Regions from separate parts of the Homo sapiens genome. Here regions 2, 3 and 4 are each reported to be linked to region 1. The links are microRNA targets in miRTarBase. Many come from high-throughput screens and were not tested one by one. Region 1 holds a microRNA gene; each other region holds the end of a gene's coding sequence.
What was found. Region 1 holds the annotated microRNA hsa-miR-7-5p (UGGAAGACUAGUGAUUUUGUUGUU, at 927-950, opposite strand). A microRNA usually pairs through its seed, bases 2 to 8, with sites in the 3' UTR of a target mRNA and lowers its output. Matches are read on the target gene's strand: a 7mer-m8 pairs with bases 2 to 8, a 7mer-A1 pairs with bases 2 to 7 and ends in A, and an 8mer does both.

Region 1 (3,171 bases):
GTCTCACTATATTGCCCAGGCTGGTCTCAAACTCCTGTACTCAAGCAATCCTCCCATCTCATCCTCCCAAAATGTTAGGATTACAGGTATGAGCTCCCACACCCAGCCCACTTCTGGAACTTTTATTGAAAAGTATCCTTAGGCTGGGTTCGGTGGCTCACACCTGTAATCTTGGCACTTTGAGAGGCTGAGGCAGGAGACCATGTCTTTACAAAAAAGAAAAAAAAAATGTTTTTTGAGACAGAATCTCTCTCTGTTGCCCAGGCTGGAGTGCAGTGGTGCAATCTTGGGTCATGCAGCCTCTGCCTCCTGGGTTCAAGGGATTCCCATGCCTCAGCCTCCCGAGTAGCTGGGACTACAGGTGTGTGCCACAACGCCCAGCTAATTTTTGTATTTTTAGGAGAAATGGAGTTTCACCATGTTGTCCAGGCTGGTCTTGAACTCCTGGCCTCAAGTGGTCCACCTGCCTTGGCCTCCCAAAGTGCTGGGATGACAGGCGTGAGCCACCCGGCCAAAAAAATAATAATTTTTTTTTTAATAGAAAAGTACCCTGAGAACTCTGGTCTAGGGAGGGCTTTAAATGTCATTCCCTCATTGGGTCTCCCAGGAAAGCGCCATAAGGTGGTTAGAGGTCTTGGGTTTAGAGTCAGGTATGTTCTATCTCCAGGCTTGTGGGGGCGTACGAGTGATGTGACAAACCCCATACATGGTGCATGGCTGTATGAGCACAGGATGTATGTCCTTGTTTGCTTCCCTCCTTTGCCTGTGCCTGTATCGCCTGGAGTGAGCCAGCCCCCCCACTCCGAGTGGAAGCGATTCTTCCCCGACCTCCCCGGTTCTCCCCCACTGGCCAGCCCATTGAAGGCGAAGGTCGAAGGGAGTCTGCGCTATGAGGCCGGCTGTGACTTGTTGTCGTAGTACATCAGAACAACAAAATCACTAGTCTTCCACACAGCACTAGACCACAGCCACTCTAATCTTCTTCACCACCCTCTGCCCCATGTCTGAGACCCCTGCCCAGCTCCTCCTTCTCACCTGAGCCAAGCTATGACACCTGAGTTTCCTGCCTCTGTGCTGCCTCCCTGTTTTCCATTCCCGGTTCTCCTGGAGAGAAGCAGGGTCTGATCTCCAAGGGCCCACCTCCCACCCAGGCACGTCAGAGACATGGGATTTGGAGTTGGACTGGTGGGGTTGACTTACAGCTTCACTTGTGGGCTGAGAGTCCCTGCGTGGGTTATTTTTCTGCCTTTCTCAGGGCCTTGGGTTCCCCAAATGTCACATGGGCACAGTAACACCCATGTCCTAGGGTTGAAGATGGCATGATATGATGTATGTAAAATGCTTGGCACAAGGTTTCTCACCGAAGTCTGGAAGAGACACCATAATGTCATCTTAGCAGGCAGCTGTTACCCCAGTGAGGTATCTTACCTGTTGAAAATTCCGGACTTGGGCCAGGCGCAGTGACTCACGCCTGTAATCCTAGCACTTTGGGAGGCTGAGGTGGACGGATGAAGAGGTCAAGAGTTTGAGACCAGCCTGGCCAACATGGTGAAACCCCGTCTCTACTAAGAATACAAAAATTAGCCGGGAGTGGTGGCATGTGCCTGTAATCCCAGATACTCGGGAGGCTGAGGCAGGAGAATCCCTTGAACCCAGGAGGCAGAGGTTGCAGTGAGCCGAGATCGTGCCACTGCACTCCAGCCTGGGCGACAGAGCAAGACTCCGTCTCGAAAAAAAAAGAAAATTGCAGACTTCTGTGTGTGCTTATCTGGAAAATACTTTGTTTAAAAATCCATTACATGAGGTGCAGGTCTCCAGAAATGCCAGGCACCTCAGACCACCCTCTCTCGTCCTCCCCCTGCAAAATCAGGGTCAAAGGGCTCTCCCGTTACCTGGAGGAGCTGTCCAGGGTTCTGGAGACGAAACGGAGCCCGCTGGGAACTGTCCTGAGCCCCGGTGCTGAAACAGATCGCGGTTCTCTTCTCGGACCTCCCGAGAGGCGCTGTCCGGATATTTGGTGCTGAAATAAATAGCATTCTCCTCCTTCGGTCGGTGGAGAGCTGTCCCTCGTGCTGAAGAAAACTTGATTTTCCTCTCTCTTTCCCCGTTCCCCCACCCCTCTTCGTTCTCGGTTCCTCCGATTCTTGGGAAACCCCACCCCCACTCAATTTATTTCCCCTCCTAGCTTCTTCCTGGGGAGCTTCAGAATGGCAATGGGGTGGCGGGGGGGAGACACAGAGGGGTCGCAACTAGCACTGATACCTGCTCCTCACCCTGTACCATGTCCCCAGAACTTACCTCCCAAGCAGTCAGCCCTGCTGGTCTCTGCTTTCCAGACCGTCAAACTTCGCCGTCTCTGTCCCTTTCTGGGAAAATGTCCATGCGCCAACCTGCAAACCAGCCTCATTCCCGGCATCCCACGTCCCTCAGACCACCCCTCCTCCCACGCAGCTGCGGGCCTCCCCCTCTGTGTGCCTCACCTGCTTCCAGTCTTGTTGGCAGATGCAGGTGTCCCGTGGCTGCCGAGGCGGGGACCTGCGCTTTTATAGGCTTCAGGGAAGGCGGAGCGCCAGGAATCCTGGGAGGGGCTTCCCCAACTGGCCAATGGGATTCCGCCTCAGAATGAAGCTCCAAAGATTACCTCATAGGTTGTGGCCCACGCTTCAGAATAAAAGTCTGGCATCTGCCCAAAAACTGGGCTAGGGGATTTTTTCGGATGGGGAAGGAGCATTCATTGTGGACCATGGAGTCTCCCCACTCTCTCCAATCCCCTCCTGGGTTCCTGAGCTCCAAGTTCGTTCAGGTGTCCTGGCTGGTACCTGTTTCTTCCCATTCCCAATTTTTGCTATTGCTCCTGGTTCAGGAAAGAAAAAGCTGGTAAACTGTTTTGGGAAAAAATAAGGGATGTGGAGAATATTAAAGTCCAGTTCCACCTAGGGCAACTGACGTCTGTGAAAATGGAGGGCTCAGAAGACTCTGGGGCAGAGGTGGGACTTAAGCCTGAAGCTTTTGATTCCTTAACTCAAAACCCAATTTATAAAATTCAGCTTATTGTAGTGCTATACTGGGCAGGCTCTGAACCAAAAAACGAAGAAACTGGGGTTCAAGTTCAGATTTTTCTTCTCCTTCCTTTGGGACATTGGGCACAGTTGTGCCTCAGTTTTTGCAACT
Region 2 (3,000 bases), not on the chromosome of region 1:
AGGGCTGGCAAGGCCACTCCCTCCCCACCTTCCTCCAAGAGTCACATTTCCCAACAGTTGTTGTGACTCTGCTTCTAATTGGATAGTGACTGCTTTCATGATTTTAACCATCTAGTATCACATGCTGCTACTGGTGGGCCCAATAGCTCAAATTTCTAGTTTCCAGTGGTTTTCTAGTTCCCATTCAATGGCCCTTGAAGGAAGCCCAGATGTCCATCCATTCAGATGAAGAACTGCTCCCCAAAATGGCTCAGAAGCTGTTTTCCCAGGCAGGTCTGGAACGAAGCCTCCAATGAATGGCGGAGAATGGAAAGAACCAAAATAAAACCACAAAGCAGCCAATCATGGCCCCTTTCCCTCACTCCCTCCTGTCCTGTGAGACATCTAGACTGCTGTCAAGTTGATTACCTACCAAAGCCTACTTTAGAGAAGCTACTTTAGAATCAAACTTCTCCACGGAAAATTTTTACATGGCCTGCACGCCCTCCCCCCGCCCCCCCCAAATTCACAGTTTATTTCATGAAACAAAGAGCTACGGTAATTTAACACACAACATAGTGAAAGGAGACTCTGACAGTGCAGTGCAGATACCTTTTTCTGATCACAACTACAGATGACTGGAGAGAAAAGGGCACAGGACTGGCACCAAGCAAACCCTACTCATATGACCTAAAAGATTAGGGAAAGGGACCTACTAGCTGCAGTTATATATTTATTATTCTCACACATGATAAATACTTAATATAATGAACTTTAATGTTCTCGGTGAATTTCTTTAAAAATATCTTTTTCATGGTTTAAAATTCTTTTAAAAGAAAATAAGATGCTTTACGTTTTCTCTTCCTTTTGAACAAAGAGCTTTTCCTCTTTGATGATGTGGGAAGAGAGAGAGGATGAAAGGGGAGAACTAGGCAGGTGGAATTCACAGAGGAGATTCCGAGGTCTCAGTGAAATGCAGGGATAGGCCCCTAAACTCAGGACAGCCCTGCCCAGCCTCGTCCCTCTGCCTGAGTTCAAGTGTCTCAACCTCAGAGACAGACTTTGGGAAATAAAAGCAGATTCTATTTTTAATCTTTAGATAAAGCGCAAATGCTTCTATAATAACTACTGTTCCCTCCGTGGAATTGATGGGAGTAACCTCAATAAGAACTTGAGGAAATTGGGACCAAATACAGAATCCTATTGAGAGCGTGAAAGCCATAACTAAGAGATAATGGCCAGGAGACGTTAGGGCCGGGGATGGCCTGCTGGCTAAGTTGGCAAAGCAGAGAGGTAAACATGTTGGTCTAAGGACAAAGGAGGGGTAGACAAGTGGGAGGAAACTAGCCAAACAGCACTTCCTGTTGGCAGTCTGTGAGCTGGGTGAATGGTAGGGCAGGGTAGCACCAACAGATTTCCCAGCCCTTGGGCCCCAGCTCAGGGCAGCAGTAACAGATAATCAGCAGTTAATAGGAGTCATCTCTTAGCCTGGACGTTGCTCTAAACACCACCTCTTGCCAGTCTTCAGGGAAGGGTTCTGGCTTGCCTTTGAGCTAAGTCAGCAGGCAGGTGCTCTCAATACAGAGCACAGCAATTCTCAGGGAGGCGAAGAAGAGGACTCCCTCCACTCAGGAGGGAAAAGGAATGGGGAAAAGAAATTTCCCATCAGGATCTGGTACTCTTCCTGAAGCTGGTGTGTCTAGCTCAGAGCTTGCCAGAGATTCCCTATGTCCACTGCCCGAGGCTCTGAAATCTGAAAGCACCTGAGTGTTTTAGGGAAATAGGGATGGGGTGGATTCATGTACAAAGAGAAAAATAGGTAGAAACAAAAGCAAAGAAAGAGAAGCTTGCCAAATGCCTTCTTCCACTGCTGGAAATCTACATTCGCACAGAGCCCGACTGCCCCTGACCACCTGCTCCTCCAAGGACTGATCTTGAGACTCTGCACAGCCCAGACAAAAGCAGCAGCGGCGACCCCACAGCCAACAGCCTTGCTGGCCTCAATGCAGCACCCTTGCATCTATAGAGGAGACCTCTGTGAGTGTGCGCGCATGCACACGCACCCATGCACACCGCAGCCAAGAGACACTTCCTCAACACAACCACTTCTGGTGCCACAAAGGACATTTCAAAATGAGTCTAAAGCCCCAGGGCCCCTCAGAACTTCCTGTTACTTCCTGGTCAAAGGTTCCTGAAAGCCTTGGAATCCAGGCTCACAGGGATGAGGCCTGTATCTCTCATCAGTGACTAGCACCCGGCCTAGAACACGTGAATGCTCAGGAAATCGCCACTGATTTGAAAGAACACCATTTCCTCCCAAGGGTTCCTAGGTGCCCTCAATGGGGCTCTGTCTGGTTGGGGAAATCGCTTTGAGAGCCCCTATACCTTCCAACCTGACCAGCGGAATTGAATTCCATACTTGACTCCAGAGTGGACTTTTTATTTCACGATGACCATGTGGAAAAGTTGGGGGAAAGAGACCCAAGTCTGTCTGTCTCCTTGGTTGGGGCCCACTGGATTTTCATACATGGTTCACACAACCATAAGCCCCCACTGGCTAATGTCACAAGAGTTCTGAGTGTTGGGATATGAGGAAAGAATAACAGTGGGAAAGTGTTCGGGGCAGATGTGTTTTTTTTTAAGGGGGAAAGAAAGAAAAGATTTCCCCTCCCCAAATGGTACCCTGGGGGCAGCTTGTTTGTTCATGTGACATTGATTGGTACTACTTCTGTTCTGATTCTGCACACTTGTGACTGGAAGGAGCCTGGTTAAGAGCTGGAAGTGTATTTTGCTCTGGTTTGGGGTCTTGCCCTCTTCCAAGAGACCAGCAAGTCTGTGCCAATGTCTGTGTGCTCCCAGCAGACCAGCAAGACTGTGCCAGTGTCTGTCCAGCCACTATGGGCCAGAGCCCTGCCCGTGATGAGGCTTTTCCCAGGGCCCAGGGACTTTGCTCTGTGGTTACCAACTTCTTTTCTTCAGTGGGGAGGGAGGCTGGGGCCTTCCCGAGAGACCTAAAAGATT
Region 3 (3,000 bases), not on the chromosome of region 1:
CTTCCAAGATGCAGTCAAGTTTACTATTTTCTGTTTAGTATATTACTAGTTTGAAAGTTCTTTTTGGAAACCTACTTGACTTCAGTGCTTGGCAGTTCATGGAAAACTAACTTAATGTTAACTTATTAATCCGGGTTCTGTCTGCTAAAACTTATGTGACTTTCTTGATTAACACTTCTTTTGAAACACTTTTCTTCTTTCTCTTTCAGTCTTGGTCTTTGTAATGGGAAAAGAAGGGGTCCATGGAGGCGGATTGAATAAGAAGGCATACTCAATGGCAAAATACTTGAGAGACTCTGGGTTCTAGCTGCTAGGCAGACTGTTAAGTATTAGGGGAAAATTGCTCTTAAACTTTCCTAGCTATAAGCTTAAGTCTTAATTCTGGAAATTTTATTAGCAATGCAGGGTGATGGGGTATGAACCTGTGTCTCCTTTGTATCCCTCTGTTGGTGGGGAAAGGTGTCTTTCTTTCTGCCCTCCCCCCCCAAAATAATTCTGTTCACTTTTGTTTTGTTTCCTTGTGTACTCCAGCATTGGTTATAGTCATGGGAAAGGAAGGTGTCCACGGAGGCACACTTAACAAGAAAGCATATGAACTCGCTTTATACCTGAGGAGGTCTGATGTGTAAGCAGCCTCTCCCCATCTACCTAGCAACTGTCTTCATCAACAACCCTAATTATGGTCACAATGCTACCAAACTGTAGATGGTAGCTAATTTTTCTTTACCTATTTTCTAATGTCATGATTCCTGTTTGCCCAATGGATCATTTGTATGTTAACCACTGTATGTAACCAACCCTTATCTGGCAACATAATTGCAGCACAATAATGATTTGCATGATACCTTGAAATTGGGGGGAGGGGGCATGCCAAGTTGGGCATCACTTTGTCTTAGCAATTAATGGGATATTGATTACTAAAATAAGTTAATATTAAGCAAGGTGCCGGTTGTACAATCTCTGATCAGTGTCTTTTCAGCACTTTGAGCATTTACTTGGCTCATTTAGTCTTCCTTTTGTAGCGCATGGTTGGGAGGAAAAAGTGCATGCATCATTCCTTCACTCTTCTCTTTTTCCCGCCCCCCCTCCCTTCGCACATAGGCATTTGGTTTGCTTCCATCTTTTTTTATGCAGTGCCTGTTTTTTTTTAACCAATTAAAATCCCTTTTGTTGATGAGCTATTGAGAGCTGCAGTAGTTTGCTTTTAGTATTGTTGTTGCACTTGAGCAGAGACAAACCTTTATTCATAGTGTCTACAGGACATATGAAGAGTGCAATGGCAAAACAAGAGCAAAAAGCACTTCCTCCCATGACCTTACAGTAACCATACTGATTGAATCCCCAGGGACATTCCATCATTGCAATAGCTCAGATTTTTCTTCCTTTTTCTTTGCACACCAGCTCTACTCTTTAGTAAAATTGTAAAAGGCTGCCATTATGGACATTAGGTATCCCAACATAACCATCTGGAGTGTGTCCAGTTTGTTCTTCATAGGACCAATTTTTATTTGCAGCTTGAGTTTTTATATGAAGTTGCATTATTGTGGACTTGGCTGTCTTGTGATGAATTTTTTTCATATGTATTCTGTGCCATACTATTGTTAAAATGAACTGTTGCTATTGTGAGATGGATTTTAACTGACCTATTAAGGGTTTCTTTCGAATGGCACTACTTTAGGGACATTCTAGTATTTGCTTCTATTGTTTGGGCCTTGTGGATAATGTACAGATTTAAAAACAAATCTTGTTGCTGATTTGTCCATTTCTTTCCCTGCACTTTGTTACATCTGGGATACAGTCTAACTCATCTGATTTAATATGCATTTAAAAAAATGCCATAACTATTAAACACCTTGTTTACAGACAGATGAAATAAATTTATTCCAACCAAATACTCTAGGCTCCTGTTGTTTATATACATTGTTTATATAAACTGTTAAAAGTTGATTTTTGACAAAGTGGGAATACACAGAATAGGCCAAAGTCTGCTGCAAGCATAAAACTTCAGCAATATTAGGTGATGGCCTACTTCAAGTAATATTACAGATAAAATTAGTGCCTGGGAATTTCTTTTTAATGGACTCTGATCTGTTACACATAGCTTTTAGTCATTTCAGGCTCATCTTCAGGAGTATGTGAGAAGCAACTGACTTATCTGCTAGAAAATAAGTATTTTCCTCTTCTTGCTGGTTTCTAGATGTGAAATCTAATAGTAAAGGGAGTACCAAGAAGGGTTTCTGCACTATTGTGGATTTTTCTGTATTGAAATGTCATATGACTTTAGATTTGGAAGCTGTGTTGGCAGGCTGAAGTCAGCCAGCTGGGGCCCTCCCACATAAGAGCAGAAGACATTCCTTAGGCAGCATATAAGATAATTGGGATGCTTTTGCATTTTTTGGCTTTGTAGTGACATGTTGACCATGGCTGTGTAATAGGTTTAAATCCAGAGGCCATAAAATCCCTGATATATATTGAAGTTTGATAAATATGTAAATTTAGGGCTATTTACATAAATCATTATTACCAACAACTGTCAAGCGGACGCTTAGAGCCAGGGGTGCTCAAAAGTTAGTAGGTCTCAGTAAAACTGGGGAGCTGGTTATAAGGCAGACTATGGACTCTGGGGTTCCACTCTGGAGATGGAGAGTCCATAAGCCCAGGAATCCCTTTTCAGAAACAATCACTGAGTCAGTCTGATTCATTTTAAGTGGTGTATATGCTACCTTTTGAGAAAAAATGGGTTAGGGAATAGGAATTAACCTGTCTTAAAATATACTATGCATAATGAAAGTTTTTTTTTCTTTGACTAGTTGTCAGGCACTGGTTGTGAATATGGTTGTACATACACAGGGATGTACAAATATGGGAGATAAAGGATTTGGGGCTATTTTGGTAGTTGGACATAACCTAGAAATTGTAAAACTATAATAAAAACCTGGTATCAGTTTCTTGACCTGTTAAGGCCAAAAGACGGGGCAAATGAAAATTTGGTGGTTGAGT
Region 4 (3,171 bases), not on the chromosome of region 1:
TTGTTTTCCAACTTAGACAGGTCTGGCTAGTTCCTGTAGGCTGGAGGACAGGAAGCTCTGTTTTGACATACTTGGTGCATTCCTTGTCTTGCCCTAGGAGAGGTCTTGTGGGTCAGGCCAAACACTGTAAGGGTGTGGGTCTCTCTTTGTGGCCATTGCTAGGGCTACTGTGTCCTGGTGCTTTGAGTTCTCCAGCAGAGGTCAGGCTCTTCCTGCAGGATCATAACAGCCCTGCTGCTCTTTTTACTTTCTGGCTGTTTAGATCACATCTGTCAGGGTGGTGGGCTAGGGCTGTCTTCTAACAAGGATCCTGTTCAAAGCTTCTCATTCTTCCCCTAACTGAACTAGTAACCTTGAAACGTCTGGCCAGTCTGAATCCTTTTTCTGTCAGATGGATAGAGCAGTGTTGTGTATGGGTTTGTTGAGTGTGAAGGGCAGATAAAAGAATAATCCGCGTGAACTGTGCAGGGCCATATGAATGTCACGGCTTTGCACACACATAGTGGACACCCACATCAGAAACTTCCTTTCTTGGCTTCAGAGGGGCAGCTGGGAATCTGACCTAGTGATCATACACACTGTAGGAAAGGGGTTGGGGAAATCCCCGTATGTAACTTTGCTTTTCTTTCTCTTCTAGCTTAATCGAACCCTGAAGAAGATGGGACAGAGACCTTGATGATATTCACACACATTCAGGAACCTGTTTTGATGTATTATAGGCAGGAAGTGTTTTTGCTACCGTGAAACCTTTACCTAGATCAGCCATCAGCCTGTCAACTCAGTTAACAAGTTAAGGACCGAAGTGTTTCAAGTGGATCTCAGTAAAGGATCTTTGGAGCCAGATTTGTCGTCTCATTATTGTAGGAGAGAATTTGTGGGTTGTGGCAGTAATACATTTCCCATGTGTCCTGATGCTTTCAGGATACATCAGTTGTTAGTGTTTAAATTGAGTTATTTTTATTTTGTGCTTTTGAGATGGAGTCTCACTCTGTCTCCCAGGCTGGAGTGCAGTAGCGTGATCTCAGTTCGTTGCATCCTCCGCTGCCCAGGTTCAAGCAGTTCTGCCTCAGCCTTCCAAGTAGCTGGGATTACAGGCGTGTGCCACCACACTCAGCTAATTTTTGTATTCTCAGTAGAGATGGGTTTTACCATGTTGGCCAGGCTGGTCTCGAACTCCTGGCCTCAAGTGATTCGCCTGCCTTGGCCTCCCAAAATGTGCTAGGATTACAGGCATGAGCCACCACGCCCCGCCTAAATTCAAAATCTTTTTGTTTTTTTTTAGACGGAGTCTCACTCTGTCGCCCAGGTTGGAGTGTACTGGCGCGATCTCGGCTCACTGCAAGCTCCACCTCCCAGGTTCCTGCCATTCTCCTGCCTCAGCCTCCCAAGTAGCTGGGACTACAGGCACCCGCCACCATGCCCGGCCAATTTTTTGTATTTTTTAGTAGAGATGGGGTTTCACCGTGTTAGCCAGGATGGTCTCAGATTTCCTGACCTCGTGATCTGCCCATCTCTGCCTCCTAAAGTACTGGGATTACAGGCGTGAGCCACCGTGCCCAGCCCTAAATTGAATTCTTAAATCCCTCTTGTTCATAAAGCAGTATATTTGGTTTACAGGACATTTTCACGTTCAGTATTTTGTTTGTGCGTCACAAGATCCTATGAACTTTAAATGACCTATAATTTTCATGACATATTTGTGGCAGTGCTGGGTCCTGGAAGGAAACTATTGAACACCTCCTACTGCCAGGAACTGTGCAAAGAGGGATCCATATACATTACTTACACCTTACAACTCAGGTTTAGTAGTAGTTCCTCATCTTATTGATGAGGAAATGAACCCACAGTAGTTAGTGACTTGATCAAGGTCACATTAGGCAGCTGCTGGAGCTGAGCTAAATGGTTTCCTGCCTACCCACAGTATTAATGCTATGCCTGTCACCCTATAGTGGGTACTTGGACTGGAAGCCCCTGCTTGCAAGTTGTCTCACATCTCTGCCTGGTTCCTTGTATATAAAATAAGGTTAGCAGGCCAGGCGCGGTGGCTCACGCCTGTAATCCCAGCACTGGGAGGCCGAGGCGGGCGGATCACAAGGTCAAGGAGATCGAGACCATCCTGGCTAACATGGCGAAACCCTGTCTCTATTAAAAATACAAAAAAATTAGCCGGGCGTGGTGGCGGGCGCCTGTAGTCCCAGCTACTCGGGAGGCTGAGGCAGGAGAATGGCGTGAACCCGGGAGGCGGAGCTTGCAGTGAGCCAAGAGATCGTGCCGCTGGACCCCAGCCTGGGTTACAGAGCGAGACTCCGTCTAAAAAAAATAAAAAATAAGTGTAGCAGAACCTGGCTCACTGGGCAGTGGTGACGAATAAATGAGAATGCTATTTTGAGTGCCCAGTGCAGTGCCTGGCCTATAATGGATGTTCAGTTACTGTTTCCCCACACTTGGAATTCGTAAGCTTTTCAGTATGCTCTTTTTCCCCATTGGTTTGATAATTATTATTGGGAACTGAATGGTGGTTCCCAAGAAGACATGTCCATATCCTAAGCCCTGGATGCCATCAGCATGACCTTATTTGTTTGGCTGGCATGCAGTGGCACGATCTCTGTTCACTGCAACGTCTGCCTCCCAGGTTCAAGCTATTCTACCTCAGCCTCCCAAGTAGTTGCATGCCACCATGCCTGGCTAATTTTTTGTATTTTTATTTTTGTTTATTTTTTTGAGACAGAGTTTTGATCTTATTGCCCAGGCTGGAGTGCAATGGCGCGATCTCGGCTCACTGCAACCTCCGCCTCCGGGGTTCAAGCGGTTCTCCTGCCTCAGCCTCCCAAGTAGCTGGGACTACAGGTGCACGCCACCACGCCTGGCTAATGTTTGTAGTTTTAATAGAGACGAGGTTTCGCGATGTTGGCCAGGCTAGTCTCGAACTCCTGACCTCAGGTGATCTGCCTGCCTCAGCCTCCCAAAGTGCTGGGATTATAGGCGTGAGCCACTGCGCCTGGCTTTTTGTATTTTCAGTAGAGACTGGGTTTCACCATGTTGGTCAGGTGGGTCTCAAACTCCTGACCTCAGATGATCACCCATCTCGGCCTCCCAAAGTGCTGGGATTACAGGCATGAGCCACAGTGCCCGGCCTTCTTTGTTTTGTTTTTGTTTTTGTTTTTGAGATGG

Region 2: the mRNA of NSD1 is a reported target of hsa-miR-7-5p. The part of its 3' UTR that is shown has no 7-base or 8-base seed match.
Region 3: the mRNA of PFN2 is a reported target of hsa-miR-7-5p. Seed matches in the 3' UTR shown: 7mer-m8 at 1,008-1,014.
Region 4: the mRNA of EIF3L is a reported target of hsa-miR-7-5p. The part of its 3' UTR that is shown has no 7-base or 8-base seed match.

Annotation. Positions count from the first base shown.
Region 1 is chr19:4,768,479-4,771,649 of GRCh38, reverse strand. It overlaps MIR7-3 (microRNA 7-3), which reads right to left and starts at 980; the gene lies at 871-980. MIR7-3HG (MIR7-3 host gene) reads right to left here and starts at 2,545. Exons shown (of 3, transcript NR_027148.1): 1 at 2,299-2,545; 2 at 1,893-2,020. RefSeq lists a silencer at 1,819-2,113.
Region 2 is chr5:177,295,161-177,298,160 of GRCh38, reverse strand. It overlaps NSD1 (nuclear receptor binding SET domain protein 1), which reads right to left. Exons shown (of 23, transcript NM_022455.5): 23 at 1-3,000. The coding sequence ends at 2,702. Among named protein-coding and RNA genes, the nearest start is that of RAB24, 7.1 kb to the left of the region's middle. RefSeq lists enhancers at 1,460-1,959, 1,960-2,461.
Region 3 is chr3:149,963,796-149,966,795 of GRCh38, reverse strand. PFN2 (profilin 2) reads left to right here. Exons shown (of 3, transcript NM_053024.4): 3 at 210-1,892. The coding sequence ends at 307. Among named protein-coding and RNA genes, the nearest start is that of PFN2, 5.6 kb to the left of the region's middle.
Region 4 is chr22:37,887,789-37,890,959 of GRCh38, forward strand. EIF3L (eukaryotic translation initiation factor 3 subunit L) reads left to right here. Exons shown (of 13, transcript NM_016091.4): 13 at 638-1,619. The coding sequence ends at 676. Among named protein-coding and RNA genes, the nearest start is that of MICALL1, 17 kb to the right of the region's middle.